Linked DNA regions of Homo sapiens: region 2 is linked to region 1. The links come from fine-mapping of genetic effects on plasma protein levels. A gene starts in region 1. The other region holds a variant in brackets. All regions are shown on one strand. Distances are from middle to middle. Region 1 holds the start of GUCA2A (guanylate cyclase activator 2A). Region 2 has its middle 17 kb from the start of HIVEP3.

What was found. A credible set is the group of variants that fine-mapping cannot tell apart. PIP is the posterior inclusion probability: the model's chance that the variant is causal. The UK Biobank Pharma Proteomics Project read protein levels with antibody pairs (Olink). The fine-mapping took linkage between variants from a reference panel, not from the people measured, so its PIPs are less certain.
Region 2: its variant is the best candidate, but not a certain one, in a credible set for the plasma level of the GUCA2A protein (UK Biobank, PIP 0.62).

What each region holds. Positions count from the first base shown.
Region 1 is chr1:42,159,472-42,168,044 of GRCh38, reverse strand. It overlaps GUCA2A (guanylate cyclase activator 2A), which reads left to right and starts at 3,300. Exons shown (of 3, transcript NM_033553.3): 1 at 3,300-3,407; 2 at 4,435-4,642; 3 at 5,075-5,355. The coding sequence starts at 3,333. The coding sequence ends at 5,139. RefSeq lists an enhancer at 2,476-3,440.
Region 2 is chr1:41,931,595-41,940,167 of GRCh38, reverse strand. It overlaps a transcript of HIVEP3 not described here. Among named protein-coding and RNA genes, the nearest start is that of HIVEP3, 17 kb to the right of the region's middle. The variant A/G (reference allele first, on the strand shown) is at 4,311.

The sequences.
Region 1 (8,573 bases):
CCCTCGGCTCCACACCTAACTCTAATTTACCCCTGCCCAACCTCAGCTCCATCTCAACCTGACCCTAATCCAAACCAACTTTAGTGTCGCCCGAATTGACCCCAATCCCAACCCCGCTCCGGTCTCCGCAAGCCCCGGCTCCAGTCTAGCATGGAGCTCAGCCGCACTCCCGAACTTCTCCCGGTGTTCATCCCCACCCCAGCCTCCGAAACTCCTGCCCCTCACCTTTCCCCCAGCTCCATCCCCCGACATCCTGTTGCTCAGCATCCAAGTCCCACGCCCCGACCCTCAGCCCCATTCCTTCCCCTAACCCCACTCACTCCCACGCCCACTCCCACCTGCCCTCAGCGAGGGGACCAGTGTGTGGCTGACCTTGGTGGGCACACACACATGTCCAGGCACGCACACACACCTCAGTGTATACACACACGTCAGCACACACACACGTCAGTGCACACACACACGTCAGCACTCACACACACCTCAGTGTATACACACACGTCAGCACTCACGCACACCTCAGTGTATACACACACTTCAGCACACACGCACCTCAGTGTATACACACACGTCAGCACACACACACCTCAGCACACACACAGTGTATACACACGTCAGCACACACACCTCAGTGTATACACACACGTCAGCGCACACACACCTCAGTGTATACACACACGTCAGCACTCACACACCTCAGCACATACACGCACCTCAGTGTATACACACATGTCAGCACACACACACCTCAGCACACACACGCACCTCAGTGTATACACACACATCAGCGCACACATACCTCAGCACACACACGCTCCTCAGTGTATACACACATGTCAGCACTCACACACACCTCAGTGTATACACACACATCAGCACACACACAGCTCAGCACACACACACACCTCAGCACACACACAGTGTATACACACGTCAGCACACACACCTCAGTGTATACACACACGTCAGCGCACACACACCTCAGTGTATACACACACGTCAGCACTCACACACCTCAGCACATACACGCACCTCAGTGTATACACACATGTCAGCACACACACACCTCAGCACACACACGCACCTCAGTGTATACACACACATCAGCGCACACATACCTCAGCACACACACGCTCCTCAGTGTATACACACACATCAGCACTCACACACACCTCAGTGTATACACACACATCAGCACACACACAGCTCAGCACACACACACACCTCAGCACACACACACACCTCAGTGTATACACACACGTCAGCACACACACACCTCAGCACACATACGCACCTCAGCACACATACGCACCTCAGTGTATACACACACGTCAGCACTCACACACGTCAGCACACACACACCTCAGCGCATACATGCACCTCAGTGTATACACACACCTCGGCACACACACGCACAACACAGCAGATGCACTCAGCTCAGCATACACACACACACCTCAGTGCACATACACACACATATCTCAGTGCATATACACACATGAGCATACACACACACATACCTCAGTGCACATACACACACCCCAGCAGACACCCCAGCAGACACACATCCCAGCAAACACACACACCTCGGTGTACACACACGCGCCTGTGTATATACACACTGACACACACACACCTCGATGTATATATGCACACCTCCTTGCACAGACACAGATACCTTGGTGTACACGGACACACATATACCCCTCAGCATACACACACATACACCTCAGCATATATACACATACACTCCTCAGTGTACACACATGCCTCAGCACACACACACCTTCAGCACAAGCACACATACAAACACACCTTGGCTACACACACCCATCAGGGTATATACAGACACCTTGGCATACACAGACATACACATCTCCGCAGACACACCCCCCCTTAACACACACACACACACACACACACACACACTCACCAGAAAGGGGTGGGAAATCCAGTGCAGCTGTGAGGACTGCCCTGGGAGCTGGGCCAGGAGCTACCTGCCCCTCCCTGAGGGCCTTGTCCCTGCAGTTCCCTCCTGGTCAGGCCCTGCTCTCTCCAATTCCCTCTTCAGTGTTGACTCTCCCCACCCAGGAATTCCTGCCCAACCTCCCGCCCTAGGGCTGTCCTGGCATCGGGCCAGGTTGGCTGAGTAGAAAGATGACAATCCCAGGGCTACCCTTTCTCCTGTGTCCTGGGGATTCCTGCTCACAACAGCACACAGTGAATGCACGCTGCCCTGAGGGCGCAGTCTGAATGGGGTCAGAGTCTATAGGGGCGCGGGCACACCCAAGCAATTCCCCAGTGAGATCCGCGGAAAGGGGACTGTATCTGCAGGGGCAAGGGGGGCGGGCGGATTGGGGAGGAGCTCATTCGAGGACACCCTGAGGCTGCAGGGCAGGCAGGACAGGATGGGGACCAGCACAGGATGGGGACAGCCTGTGACTCAGACAGGCAGGAGGTCACCAGAGGGGCCAGGGAGGACCAGGAGCTGCTGTGGCTGCTAATAATATGGGAATGGACCTCTGCTGAGCACCTTCTGTGTGCCAGGCATTGAGCTAAATGTTTTTAAAACCTCACTTGATTCTCCAAACAGTAATGCCTACCACACACCTACCCCATGAGGTAGGTATTATTTTTGGTTCCCACAGGGGACACAAGGGACAACGAGACTCAGAGAGGGGAAAGCATTGGCCCAAGTTCACACGCCTCACAACTGGGCAGTAGGTGGAACGGAACCCAGGCTGTGCGGAGGGCTTCCTTGAGGTCGCGGCAATCAAACCCAGACCCTGACTTGCCCTGCAGCCTCCCCCGTGGAATTTCTCACATTTCCCTGAATATTCCAGGCCCGTCTCACCTCCTGGCTGTCCCTTTGGCATGAAATGGCCTTCTGTCCTCAGTCCCTTCTCTGGGAAAACTTCCACCCATTCTCCAGAGCTCAGCCCCCAGTGCAGCCCCGTCACCTCATCCTAGGATCACCCCACCCTAATCGCCCTGCGTTTCACTGTCGGGCTGGGCCCCCCTCCTCAAGGGCAGGGTCTGCCGGCCCCACACAGCAGCACAGGGCAGTCGTGAGTGAATGTGCCTTGTTGGTGAATGAATGCAGGACCCAGCCCGGCTGTGGGTCAAAGTAGGTGCTCAGGGAGGGGCCGGGGCCCCCCCTGCCTGGCTCTTATCTCCTAGGGCTGTCTCGAGCCTTATCTGATAAGGCCTGACAGGTGAGCAGATGAGACTGACAGAGGCTTCCAGGTTACTCAGTAACCTGCCCTCTTTAAAAGTCCCGCCGCTTCCCCCTGGCATCCAGAACAGCCACCCCTCTCTCGGGCACTGCTGCCATGAATGCCTTCCTGCTCTCCGCACTGTGCCTCCTTGGGGCCTGGGCCGCCTTGGCAGGAGGGGTCACCGTGCAGGTGAGTCCTGTGTCCCTACCCCGGCCCAGCTGGCTCCCTGCCCCTAGTGCCCAGGTCTGGTCCCCTGAGAGAGTACCTCCTCTTTGGGGCTGGATTGAGGGTGTGTGTCCCAGGCTTGGCCTTCTTCGAGGAGCTCCTGCTCAGTCCAGCCACACACACACCTTTCCCTTCAACTTTGGAGGAGAAAGAAACCCAGTGGAGGGAAGAGGAATAACCATATGGGGAAGGCGGGGAGTTGGCCAATTTACTGAGTGTCCTATGTGCCGGCTCCTTCCCCAGCCCCTCACTGTGGCTCCACTATCAACCTGGAAGAAAGGGATCATTAGTCCCATTTTACAGAGGGGAAAACTGAGCCTCACAAAGGTTCTGTAACAGGCCATGGGCACATGGCTGTGGGAAGTGCAGGAGCTGGATTTAAATCCAGACCTTACTCCTCAGTGGGTCCCAGGAACCACATGGACACCCTGGAGGTCCTGACAGATGGGTATGCCTACCAGTGCCAATGCTGGCGACAGGCCAAGCTGGCACCTAGCGGGGGCCCTGATCTCTATCAAAGCCAGATTCCGGGAGGCCTTTTATTGCTTCTCAAACCAAAACCAGGCTGCAGGCTGGAGCTGGGGGCCCAGTAATCAGCCGCACCGCTCTCAGGCAGGGGAAAGACAGCCTGGGCTTGGCCACGTGGAACTACGATGCCTGGGTGCTGGTCCTTTGCCTCTCCCTAAAAATCAGCACACTGGCTCCTACTCATTAGGCACCTATGGTGTTCCTGGAGCTTCACACCCATTTTCTCCATTCCCCATACAACATGCAGAATTTGCGGGTTCCAGAGTGTCCAGCATCACGGAGCCAAGCCAGGACGTGGGGCCTGAACTCTGCCCCTCACAGTGCCCCACTGTGGATCGCCTGGCTCCCATATGCCACGAACACTGCCTGTGAGCACCACTGGGCTGGACCGGGGCCAGCACGGGGGGCACAGCCAGGAAGCAGGCTGCAGCCTGGCCTCATGCTCTGGGCTTCTCTCTTCCAGGATGGAAATTTCTCCTTTTCTCTGGAGTCAGTGAAGAAGCTCAAAGACCTCCAGGAGCCCCAGGAGCCCAGGGTTGGGAAACTCAGGAACTTTGCACCCATCCCTGGTGAACCTGTGGTTCCCATCCTCTGTAGCAACCCGAACTTTCCAGAAGAACTCAAGCCTCTCTGCAAGGAGCCCAATGCCCAGGAGATACTTCAGAGGCTGGGTGAGCAGCCTCCTTCCTCTCTGATTGGTGGGGTTCGGGAATACTGTGGTGGCACTTGAGGAAGAGATGTGCTCTGATTGGTGGGATTTGGAGGAAGGGCTCAGCTCTGACTGGTGGAACTAGGGAGCTTGGCTCTGATTGGTGGGTCTGTTCCATGCCCACTTCAATTCCAAGTTGTAACTGCTGAGGTTTGGGAACTAAGACCATTCATCTGGTCTTAGTTTCCTCTCTTTCTGGTGGAATCTCTGCTTTGATTGGTTGGTTTGAGTGGTCTGTGTGCCCTGGTTTGGGGCGAAAAGCCCAGTAGGTCAGAGTACGGGCCTGCTGAGATTCTCCTGGGGCTGGGTGGTGACGTACAAGCTCTGGGCCAAGGGCGGCAGGGGCCTCGCGAGGAAATGCTGGTTCTCACGAGGCTCCATCTCTGTTGTGCAGAGGAAATCGCTGAGGACCCGGGCACATGTGAAATCTGTGCCTACGCTGCCTGTACCGGATGCTAGGGGGGCTTGCCCACTGCCTGCCTCCCCTCCGCAGCAGGGAAGCTCTTTTCTCCTGCAGAAAGGGCCACCCATGATACTCCACTCCCAGCAGCTCAACCTACCCTGGTCCAGTCGGGAGGAGCAGCCCGGGGAGGAACTGGGTGACTGGAGGCCTCGCCCCAACACTGTCCTTCCCTGCCACTTCAACCCCCAGCTAATAAACCAGATTCCAGAGTACTCTGGGTGTTGCCTTCCTTCCTTCCTTCATCCCCTAGTCTATCCTGCCCTGGAAGCTCGGGATGTAATGTACTAAGCGAAGGACCCCACTCTCCCTGCTAAGCTGCTCACTGTCCCTGGGGCTGCCACAACACAGAGGCGTGGAGAGGATCTGGATCTCCAAACCACCAAGGCAGCGGGTGGTGGGGAGGGTTTGCTTTTATTTCACATCTCCTGAGGTCACCAAGTTCACTGAGCCACATGTGAGCACGGGAGCCAGTCTGAGCTGGTTTGGACAACCAATACAGGCACTTGGCCCACTAGAAGACTGGCACCAAACTCTTGGGTATTCAAGGACTTGGCTCCCACCAGCCATGCTAGTGTGGCCTCCAGCCCTGACCACATCCCAAACCACACCTCTTGCCATTTCCTCTGCTGCTGCTCACCTCTCCACTGCCCGTCTTCCCACACTACTGTCCAGGCAAACTCCTACTCAGGGTCCAAGGCTTTCATTCCACGGCCTCTCCTCAAGACAACTTGCTCAACCCCCCAGGAAGAGTCTCAGTGCTCCCATTGTGACCTTGACCTTGGTGCTTTCTGGGCACTGTGATCACCCACAACCCTTGCACAGCTGTGGCCACCCTGTTGTGTAATGGCTTCTGTGCCTGGGGAAGTCTCTCTGACCTCCAGACCCACATGGATAATTGCATGAGGATATAAAACAGGGCAGGGGCCCAGCCACAGCTTTTCCAAGTACTGTGTGATCTTTGGAAAGTCACCTTCCCTCTCTGTGCCTCCACCTCTTCCTCTATAAAACTGGGACACTAATATTTCCTGCCTCCCAGGCTGGGTGAAATAATGCATATAAAGCCCTCAGTTCAGGCCTGACACAAACGTAAGAGGAATTCAATAAGTGGTAAAACAAACTAGAGAAAAGGGGACCAGGATCAGGCTGAAAGTGGTTCAGACAGGGTGAGGAGGCAGGGTGTGGAAGTGAGGCCTATTAGCAAAGGTAGAGGGAACAAAAAAAAGAGGAGGCAGAACTCCCAAGGGTCCATCTTGAGGAGTGGGGTGGAGGGGAAGTGTCTCAAGGGGGATTCCATGGGCTTCAGAATTCAAAACATAAGGTCTCTTCTAGTTGAGATCAGTAAGGCTTTGTGAAAGGGGAAGGGCAAGTGCATTTGCATCACCCCTCGAGATTTGCACTGGGATGCAGGGAATTTCAAAACCAGTGTGGAAGTAGGGAGAAAGAGAGTGTTGCAGAAGGTGGGAATGGTGCAGACAGACACAAAGACATAGGAATGGTTCAGTCAGGACAGAGTGGAGCTTGGGAAGGCAGACAGGACTGAGTTTGAGCCTTACTGTGTCATTTACAAGCTGAGTGTCCCTCTCTGAGGCTTGGTTTCTCATCTGAAAGTGAGGATGATAACAGACCCTACCTCCCAAGGTTGGCGGGGGATTAAGTGAGATGTATGGTAGAGTAGAATCATTTAATGCCCTAACTCTGGAGCCAGACTCTTTGGGTATAAATCCTGGCTCTGTCTTTTACAGCTATGTGCCTTTAGGCAGGCTACCTAGCCTGTTCTCTCCTCAGTTTTCTCATCTGTAAAATGGGGAAGATAAGAATCCATATATCATAGGGTTGAGTGAAGAGTAAATGAAAAAATGCTGGAAAAATTTTTAAAACTCCCCTGGTTTTGAACAACCACTGGGTCAAATAAGAAATCAAAAGGGAAATTGAAAAGTATCTTGAGACAAGTGAAAACGAAAATACAGCATACAAAAGCTTATGGGGTGCAGCAAAAGCAGTTCAAAGAGGGAAATTTATAGCAATAAATGCCTACATCAAAAAAGAAGAAAGATTTCATATAAACAACCTATTGTTTTACCTCAAGGAACTAAAAAGAACAAACTAAGCCCAAAGTTAACGAAGAAAAGATCAGAGCAGAAATAACTGAAATAGAAACCAGAAAAACAATAGAAAAGATGAACAAAAGTAAGAGTTGGGTTTTTGAAAAGATAAATAAAATTGCAAAATCTTTAGCTAGACTAAGAAAAAGGGAGAATACTCAAAAGCATTGGAAGCTATCCCTTTAACATCAGGAACCAGACAAGGGTGCCCATTCTTGCCACTTTTATTCAACATAGTGCTGTACTGGAAGCCCTAACCAGAGCAATTAGGCAAGAAAAAAAATAAAAAAGCATCCAACTTGGAAAGGAAGAAGTTAAATTGTCTGTATTTGCAAATGACATCATCTTATGTATAGAAAACTCTAGAGACTCTACTAAAAAGCTATTAGAACTAATAAGCAAATTTAGTAAAGTTGCAGATTACAAAATCAACATACAAAAATCAGTAGCATTTCTATAATTAACAATGAATGATCTGAAAAAGAAATCAAGAAAACAAGCCCATTTAAACAGCAACAACAACAACACACATCTTAGGAATAAATTTAACCAATGATGGAAAAGAATCAAACACTAGAAAAACATAAAACATTGATGAAAGAAATTAAACAAGATACAAATAAATGGAAAGGTATTCCATATTCATGGATTGGAAGAATTAATATTTTTAAAGTGTTTATACTATCCAGAATGATCCACAGATTTAATGCAATCCCTATCAAAATTCCAATTACATTTTTTCACAGAAATAGGAAAAACAATCCTAAATTCCCCAAATAGCCAAAGCAATGTTGAGCAAAAAAGAAAAAGCTGGAAGCATCACACTACTTGATCTCAAAATCTACTACAGAGCTGTAGAACAGCATAGTACTGGCACAAAGCAGACAACGAGACTAATGGAACAGAATAGAGAGAGCCCAGAAATAAATCTACACATTTACAATCTGATCTTTGACAAAAGTGCCAAGATCACACAATGGGGAAAGGACAGTCTCTTCAATAAATGGTATTGGGACATGCAGAAAAATGAAATTAGACACTTATCTAACCTCATGTACAAAAATTAACTCAAAATGGATTAAAGTCTTAAGACCTGAAACTGTAAAGCTACTGGAAGAAGGCAGGAGCAGTGGTGAATGCCTGTAGTCCCAGCTACTCGGAAGCTTGAGGCAAGAGGATCACTGGAGCCCAGGAATTTGAGGCCAGCCTACACAACACAGTGAGACCCTGCCAAAAACAAACAAACAAACACCAAAACCCAAAACAAAACAAAGTAACAACAACAACAAAAAATGTACCAGAGGAAACATAGAGGAAAACTTCTTGAC
Region 2 (8,573 bases), 230 kb after region 1:
GGGTATCAGAAAAATATGATTGAATATTTAGTGACTTCTGAGATAAATGCTGTTAAGAATAAAACAAAGTATTTTACATTAATGTGAGGTATCTTTTAGGTATCATTCAAAAATCATTTTGTAATTAATATTGCTAAATGAAAATACTAATAGCCTAAGGCTAGGTGCCTCAGACTAAAGTAAAATAATCAATAATGTGATCAAATTATCAATAATGAAAATATATTAATAATGAGAATTGAAAAATGGGAAATAAAAAATAAAGAAAAAGAAAAAAAGAAAAATGGGAAATAAAAACAATGATTTGGAGAGGGAAGACATATATTTAGCTTAATAACCTTAATAACTCAGGCAAGTACTGAGTCTTGGTTTTCTTAGGTCTGAAACAAGAAGATTGGATTTAGTTATCTCTAAGTTCTTTTCCAGCTATAAAATCTTTGTATTTATGTAATAAATAAAGGGCTGCTAGTTCTATGATCCTGATGTTTACTTTTTCAATGCATGTTTGATTCTGTTCAGAGAAAATACCTGGTAAGCCCTAATGGAAACCATCTGTTAGAAAAAGAAGGAGACAGAATCGTGGAGCTCTGTTGACTTCCCTCGTCTTACCAGCAAAGAGAAGAGGTGTAGTAATTCTTAAAAAGGAAGAAAGAAGAGAGATCAAAGTGGGAGAAGGAAAAATAAAAAGAAAAAGGACTAAGCACTTTCTTCTTTCCTCTGAGAGACTGCGGTGGCTCTCCCACCTTTCCGGAGACTCGTCAGCACCTGCCTGGTGGACAGCACCACATCTTTAAATTCTAAGGTTCTAACCCCTTTATTCCCAAATTCTGGAGTTCACTAACAAAGTGGTTTTCATTCTTTAAAAAATGAAATGAAACCAAAGAGGGACACACAGAGGGCTTCCAAAATAAAATGCTAGATCTTAAATTGGGTGCTTGGTTTATGAATTATTTTGTATTGATCAACTTTCCATTATAAAATAAATGAATTAAAAATATATATCACAATAAAACAAAAAGAAGAGCCATTCTCATTTAAAGAGAGGCCTTATCTCCAGAGAAATAATTAGAGGCTATCATCTATCAATCCTAAAGGGTTTTAGTAAAAACCGTTACTGCTGCCTCCGAGGTATAAGGTAAGCTGAGGTAAGCAAGCAGGGTAGTGGCAAAGATCATGTGTGAGAACAAGAATGTGAAGAGGAAAATAGAAGGGATCTAGATATTCGATGAAGTCCAGAAAGGCTGGCTTTGATATGAACAGCAGCATTTCAATCAGCCTCATGAGAAGCTCCACAATGCAGAAGTCAAAGAATGTGATCTTGCCTTTGAGCAGAGTCTGATGAAAATTCCTAGAGTAGGACTCAGATTCCCCCATAGTTTTGTATTTAGGTTATGAGAATGAGACTAAGAACCAGATTGTCACTAACAGAAAGCAAAATCTCAGCATAATTTTCATTGTGTGGAGTTCAGAAATGCATTTGAACTGCAGGCTTCATCATTTGTATCTCTGACCATTTGCTTTTATGCCTGGAGGAAGGTCCAGGCAGCCACTAACTGCTCAAATCCTTCCATTCTGGACTTGCTCTTCCTCTGTCAGTTCTCATCCTTACTTTCTTTTTGAGTGTTCTAGATGGCATTAATCAACATTCATCAGTGGTTTGGTTACACTGAATTATCTTAGTTCCCTTCCCCCATTACTTCATCTTCCCCTGACCTTCCTCCTTCTCCTGGACTCATTAACACTCATTCCTGGCATTCAGTAGATGTTGATTGAGCATTTACTATGTGTTAGTTACTGTTCCAGGTGCTGGGGACAAATGGGTGAACCACATATACATGGCTTCTGCATTGATGCACGGTATGGTATGGTGGGGAAGGAGAAGGTAGATGTTAAACAGCCTTCTACAGAGGTTAATACATATTTTGGTCCATGCCATATAGGGGAGATGTGGTGCTATGAGAGACAATATCAGGGGTGACCTACTCAAAATAGAGTGGTCAGGAAACTCAGCTCTGAGGAGATGGCATTTAAATTGCGTCCTGAGTAATGAGAGGGAACCAGGCAAGTGAAAGAGAGGAAAGCGTGTTCCATGCAGAAAGTAAAGTATGTGCAAAGGCCAGGAGAAGAAGACTTTGGCACTGGAAGACCTTAAAGAAAGCTGGTGACACACCCCAGACACATACAGTGGTGTTAACAGATAAAAACAATGGTTGATTTGTCCACATATAGAATACTTTGTGCAGATCTGGGCACACTACTCTTAAGGTGCTGGCATGAACAAGTGCTCATGATTGGTTGTTCAGTCTTGAATGTATGGCATGACTCTACATATACAATGCACCAGTTAGGATTCTCAGTTGCAAGTGCTAGAATGTCCAATCAGAACTTTCTTAAGCAAAATAGATATTATTAGTTGACATATCTGAAAAGTCCATGACCAGGGATACCCTCAGGCCTGGCTGTACCAATGGTTCAATGTTTTAGACTGGCATTGTCCACTAGAGAGAAAATATGAGCCATATGCATCATCACTTCAACATGTAATCAAAATAAAAATTATTGGTGAGATATTTTACATTCCTTTTTCCTTCTGAGTCTTTGAGATGCAGTGTGCCTTTTGTACTTACATCACATTTCTGTACTGGTCACATTTCAAGTGTTCAATAGCTACATATGGCTAGTGGCTACCATTTTGGATAGTGCAGGTCAAGGCCTTCGATCCTCTCAGTTTCAATTTGATAAGTACCTAGATTGTCTTCCTAGAAGTCTGAGCAAAAGTTTCTTTGTGTCTCACTGGCTCTAAAAGAGTCCTGTGACCACCTTGAACCAACATCATGACCAGGAAGAAAGTGTTGTGCCCAGCAGTTTAGAACCAAATTGCATGCTGTACCCCAGGACTGCAGGAGAGGGGTAGGCTCCATGTGAACTCTGTGTATAGAATATATATTTATTATTTTTGGCCACCCAGTATCCATTTGTCTGACTTTGGATAATAATGTTGGGGGATCAGTTCTCCCCACATAAAGAGGACTGGAAAGAAGACTGTTAATGGAGGTTATCTCTGGAAAGAATGATTCCAGGTATTATAAATGGTACCACTTTTATTTTCTGTTTTATAAATTTCAGTTTTTAGTTTATTGCTACTAGCATGCACTGTTTTATTTTTATTTATGATTTTAATGAAGAATATAAACATAGCTTTCTTTGTTGTAAAAAGGTTAGGACCAAATAGGGAGAATGATCTAATACTGGGGTGACCAAATGGTTTTCCTAGGACAGCCCTGGCTTATACCAGTGATTATAGTGTAATTATTAATAGAAATCCCTTTACCTCCAGTGTGTCCCATCATAAGAGCATATGGTCATCCAGTATAATAATACTTTAAAACCATCATGGGTACTGATATGGTTAATTCAGACTCCACAAATACCTTGAGATAACAGAATGATTTGATAGATATACCTTGAACCCCAATAAAAGACAGAGTAGTCACACTTTGTATTTGTGCATCATCAGGAAATGAGGCATTCCAAGAGTTAATTTTTCTAACTGAAGCTTGCCCTCTAAGCATCAAAATGTTTTAACATTTAACTACTTTTGATGGAAATATTACTCTGTGATATTTTATATTTTCCCACCTTCTTAAGTGGAGTAGACCAAACATAATGGAACTACTTCTTGTTGACACAAGTTATTGCAGAGCTTTCCACCTGGTGGACAAAAGCTCAGTGGTGTGTTGTGAATGGATTACAGGTGTGTGGAAATATGATCCCTCCATCTCCACCTCTCAGGGAAGCCAGGCCGGGCTTGAGGGGTGACAGAAGCCCCTGGATCAGTTGCCTCTTGCTGAGTCATCTGAATAGATTCATTTTCTGTGTGCATCTTGACTCGCACATGAGTCATCTGAATAGATTGATTTTCTGTGTGCATCTTGACTTGCAATAGGTTGGGAAGCATTAGTTACTGCTTTGTATTATAGTTCAGAGATTCTGGCAGGTGACCCTCCATCTTGGGGTTACAGAGGGTGATTTACATTTACCCTTGAACTGAATTTCCCTGAATTGACTACTTCTCCTTGTTCTTTGTAGCACTCTTCCTTTTTACTTGCAGGCAATTGCCATTGCTTGTTACTGTCTTTCCTATGTAGTCTGCTATCTTATTTTACACAGGTTTGTTTAGGTTAGGTGAAATATACTTGAGTATAGCTCGACTCCCCTAACTGAAGATTTAGTGGTAGCTGTTCACATTGTTGTCTTTGAAACTCATTGCTGTGCTGTTGCTATGCTCCAGGTATCTAAGATGATCTTAG[A/G]ATATCACATTATGTTTCCTCATTAGAGATGGTAGAAATCTTATAGAGGGCTCTTTATTCTTAGAGTTAGTTGTAGTTTATTTTATATATATTATATATATAAAATATATATAATATATAATATAAATATATATATAATTTCAAGAAGACTAAATTGCTAGATAATACAGGATTACAGGAAAGAAAAGAATATTTTACACAAACACACATATTTACATACATATATATGTATACAGAGAGAGAGTGAGAGAGACATTTAAAAAACATGGAGGACAGTTATGCCCTCTTTGCAAACCAATCTCAGAAAGGTCAGTTGTCATGTTCACTCAACAAATAGTCCCTTGTTGCCATTCTGAAACTGAATGCCCTTGTGGCTGGACAACTGGACTCAGCTAATAAGGCATTTCTGATGCTTTTGTGTTCTTATGCAAGGATGGACCTTTTCCAGCATTGTAAATGACAGCAGGAAATACTCAATGGGCCACAGGAAATAATTAACATCATCTGGGATAGTCTGACTCAGAAGTTAAAAGTAAGGACTTTAAAATCTGACCTGGGAATTAATTCTAGTTCTAACATATGTTAATTCTGTGGATTTGACGAGTTTCTTAGTCCCTCTGAGTCCCACTTCTCTCACTGAGTTGTTGTGAAGGTGAAATGAGAACATGTTTGCTATTAGCTAAGCATAGTCTTTGGCTAGTAGTGAGTGGTCACTAAATTGTAGTTGTTTCATTATCATTTTTAATAATAATAATATATGGAGTAGTTAATGATTAATGACAAGACTTACCTTTGGGGAAACTAGAATAAATAATAAAACATAAGTATAATGTTTTTGTCATTAGCCTAATTTTGAGTAATTAGTTGCCTGTCATATTTCTCACTAAATGGTGACATGTATGAACAATTCTGAAATTAAGTGGACTAGAAAGCCTCTAGAGTTATTTTATTCTTCACCATCCATGGTGTTTACTATGTGGCATCATATTCTTTGCCAGGCAATTGCAGGCTGGTAGATGCTTTCAACAAGACAGTTGTCCTGAATTATAACTGACTGATAGTTTATACAGATTCTGCCCTCCACTTTTTGAAAAATTGGTACATTATTTGTACTTTACTTAACTCCTATAGGATTTTCCCCGTATATCTTACATTTCTCAAAAACAACAGATAGAGGTGTTTTTGGAACATCTGTCATTCCTAAAGCTCTTTAAGCAAGTTTCCAAGAGAATAGTGATTACCCTGACCAACTGCTGTACCTTCTTCTGTTTGCTGTTGCAAAAGATGCAAAAGTACCTATAAGAAGGTAGACTTCTAGTTTCTTCTCAAAGATGTAGACAGCTGGGAAGGATTGTTCCTAAACTTATGGTGAAAAAAAATCTTTACGAATAGAAAGTTCACAACTTTTCTTGAGCTCACTGGAGTCCTAAGGTTGCTGGGTACCCAGTAGGCCCAAAATCGAGGAAGAGATAGGTATCTTCAGGGAGAAATGAGATATGAGCTCTGACTTACCTAAGCAAGAAACATACCTATATGAATTCAGCTAAGGTGGTTGTTGAATATGCAGAATCTGGCTTAATGAACTCTAGTAGAAGCGGGCAAAGCCCTAGGGATAATAAATAAAAGGAGATCACACTTTCTTTCTTAGACTCATTTCTCCATGAACCCCATCACAGGTTCACAAAAATGGTTGGGAGAGTCTACAGAAAATCTCCCTTGTAGTGAATTGCTGGAGGAGAGGAAAAGAAACTGCTGTGAGAGGGGTGAGAAATTCTACCTGGACCCTTCTTGCCTACCTCCCCTATGAACAAAAGCCTTAATTAGTGTGACATGTATGTAGAAGGGAGCAAACATTATCACTCTTTGGATACTGGTGAAATCCCATTACATCTGAGATAAGGGAACAGGGAAAAAAATCTTAACACCTAGGGAAAGGATGGATATACATTCTGGATTCAGAAGTGAAGCAGGGGAGGGATGGGATCACTGGGAAGGCTGCTGCTTCAGGACTCAGTGATATAGTGCTTGCCTAAGACTACAGCTTAATCAGAACAATAGAAACCATTTCCTCCACACACCCCCAAACCAGGCTAACGAGAGAAGTCAGAAAAATAAAAGAAAAGAAGAAAAAAACAGAAGGAACAAAAAAACAGCTAGCAAAATAGATTTTAATTTGACCATATCTATAATCACATTAAATGTGAATGGTCTAAACATACCAGTTAAAAGATGGAGATTGTCAGATTGTATGAAAAATTAAGAACCAGCTATACACTTTCTGTAAGAAACCCACTTTAGTTATAAAGACAGATAGGTTAAAAGTAATAGAATAGAAAAAGATATGCTGTGCAAACACTAATCAAAATAAAGCTGAAGTCTTTATATTACTATCAGACAAGTGAGACTTTTAGAACAATGATTATTATCTGGGATAAAAAGGAACATCAAATAATTATAAAGGGCTTGATTTTCCAAGAAGACATAACAATGCTAAACATGTACGTACCTAACAACAGAGTTTCAAAATACATGATGCAAAAGCTGATAGAATCAAAAAGTGAAATAGATAGTTTCACAATTACAGTTGAAAACTTCAGTGCTCCTTTTTCAGTAAATGATAGAACAAATGGAAAGAAAATCATCAAAAATATAGATGACTGGAGCAACATTATCAACCAACTTGACCCAGTTGATATTTATAGTATACTTTACATGACAACACTTCTTTCTAAAGTGCACATGAAACATTCTCCAAATGATACTATGTTCTGGGCCATAAAGCAAACTTAACAACCTTAAAAGACTAGAAACCATAGAAAGCATGGTCATGAACTATAATGGAATTAAGCCAGAAATCAATAATAGAAATATAAGTGGAAAATCTTCAAATGTATGGAGATGAAACAACACATATCTAAATAAACCATATGTCAGAGGAAGTCTTAAGGCAATTAAAAAAGCGTTTTGAACTGAATGAAAAAGAACTACAACATATCACAATTTGGGAAATGAAGCTAAAGTAGTGTATAGATGGAAATTTATAGAGTTAAATGCTTACACTACAAAAGAGGAAAGGTCTTCAATCAGTAAGGTAAGCATCCACCCTAAAAAGAAAAAAACTAGATAAAGAAGAACAAATTAAAACTAGTGCAAGCAGAAGGAAGAACATAATAAGAGCAAAAATCAATACATTTGAAACAAAAAAGCAATTTGGATATATCAATCAAACCAAAAGCTGGTTCTTTGAAAGATCAGCAAAATTAGTGAACTTCTAGGCAGACTGACCAAGAAAAAAGAAGATACAAATTATCAATATCAGAAATGAAAGAAGGGACATCACTGCTGACCCTACAGATATTAAAAGAATAATAAGGTAGTGCAACAAACAACTCTGTGCCCATAAATTTGACAACTTAGGTGAAATGAATCAATTCCTCGAAGGACAGACATACTAAAATTCATTCAAGAAGAAATATTATATCTTCAATAATCCCATATCTTCTAGGGAAATTGAAGTTATAGTTAAAAGCCTTCCAAAAACAAACAAACAAACAAAAAAACAAAACAAAAAAATGCAAGGCTAGTTCAACACTGGAAAAATCAACCAATGAAATTAAAATTAAATATATTTACAGAACCAAGGAAAAGAAAAACGATGATTATTTCAATAGATTTACAAAAAGCACTTTAAAAATTAATCATCTATTCATGATTAAAACTATCTGCAAACTATGAATAGAAGGCAATTTTCTTAACCTCAAAAAGGGCATCTACAAAAGGCTATAGCTAGCAACACACTTACTGGTGAAAAACTAAACACTTTCCCCTTAAGATAAAAAACAATGCAAGATGTTCTCTCTTATGACTCCTATCTGACTTCATATGGAAAGTCCTATAGTACAATAAGGCAAGAAAAAAAAAGGCAAAAAGATTTAAAAGGAAGAAAGGAAACAATGTCTTTTCACGTGTAACTTTATTGTCTTTGTAGAAAAACCCGAAGGATCATTAAAAAGTTTCTAGGACTAATAAGTGAGTTTAGTAAGGTTGCAAGATACAAAGTCAATTGTATTTCTTCATGCTAGCAATGAACATATGGACTTTGAAATTTAGAGAGCAATAGCCTTTTCAGTAGCACCGAAACCCACAAATTCTTAGATATAAATCTAACAAAAACAATATTCAGGATAGGTATGCTAAAATCTAGAAAATCCTGGTGAAAGCAATTAAAGAACAGTAAAATAAATACAGATACTGTATTCATGG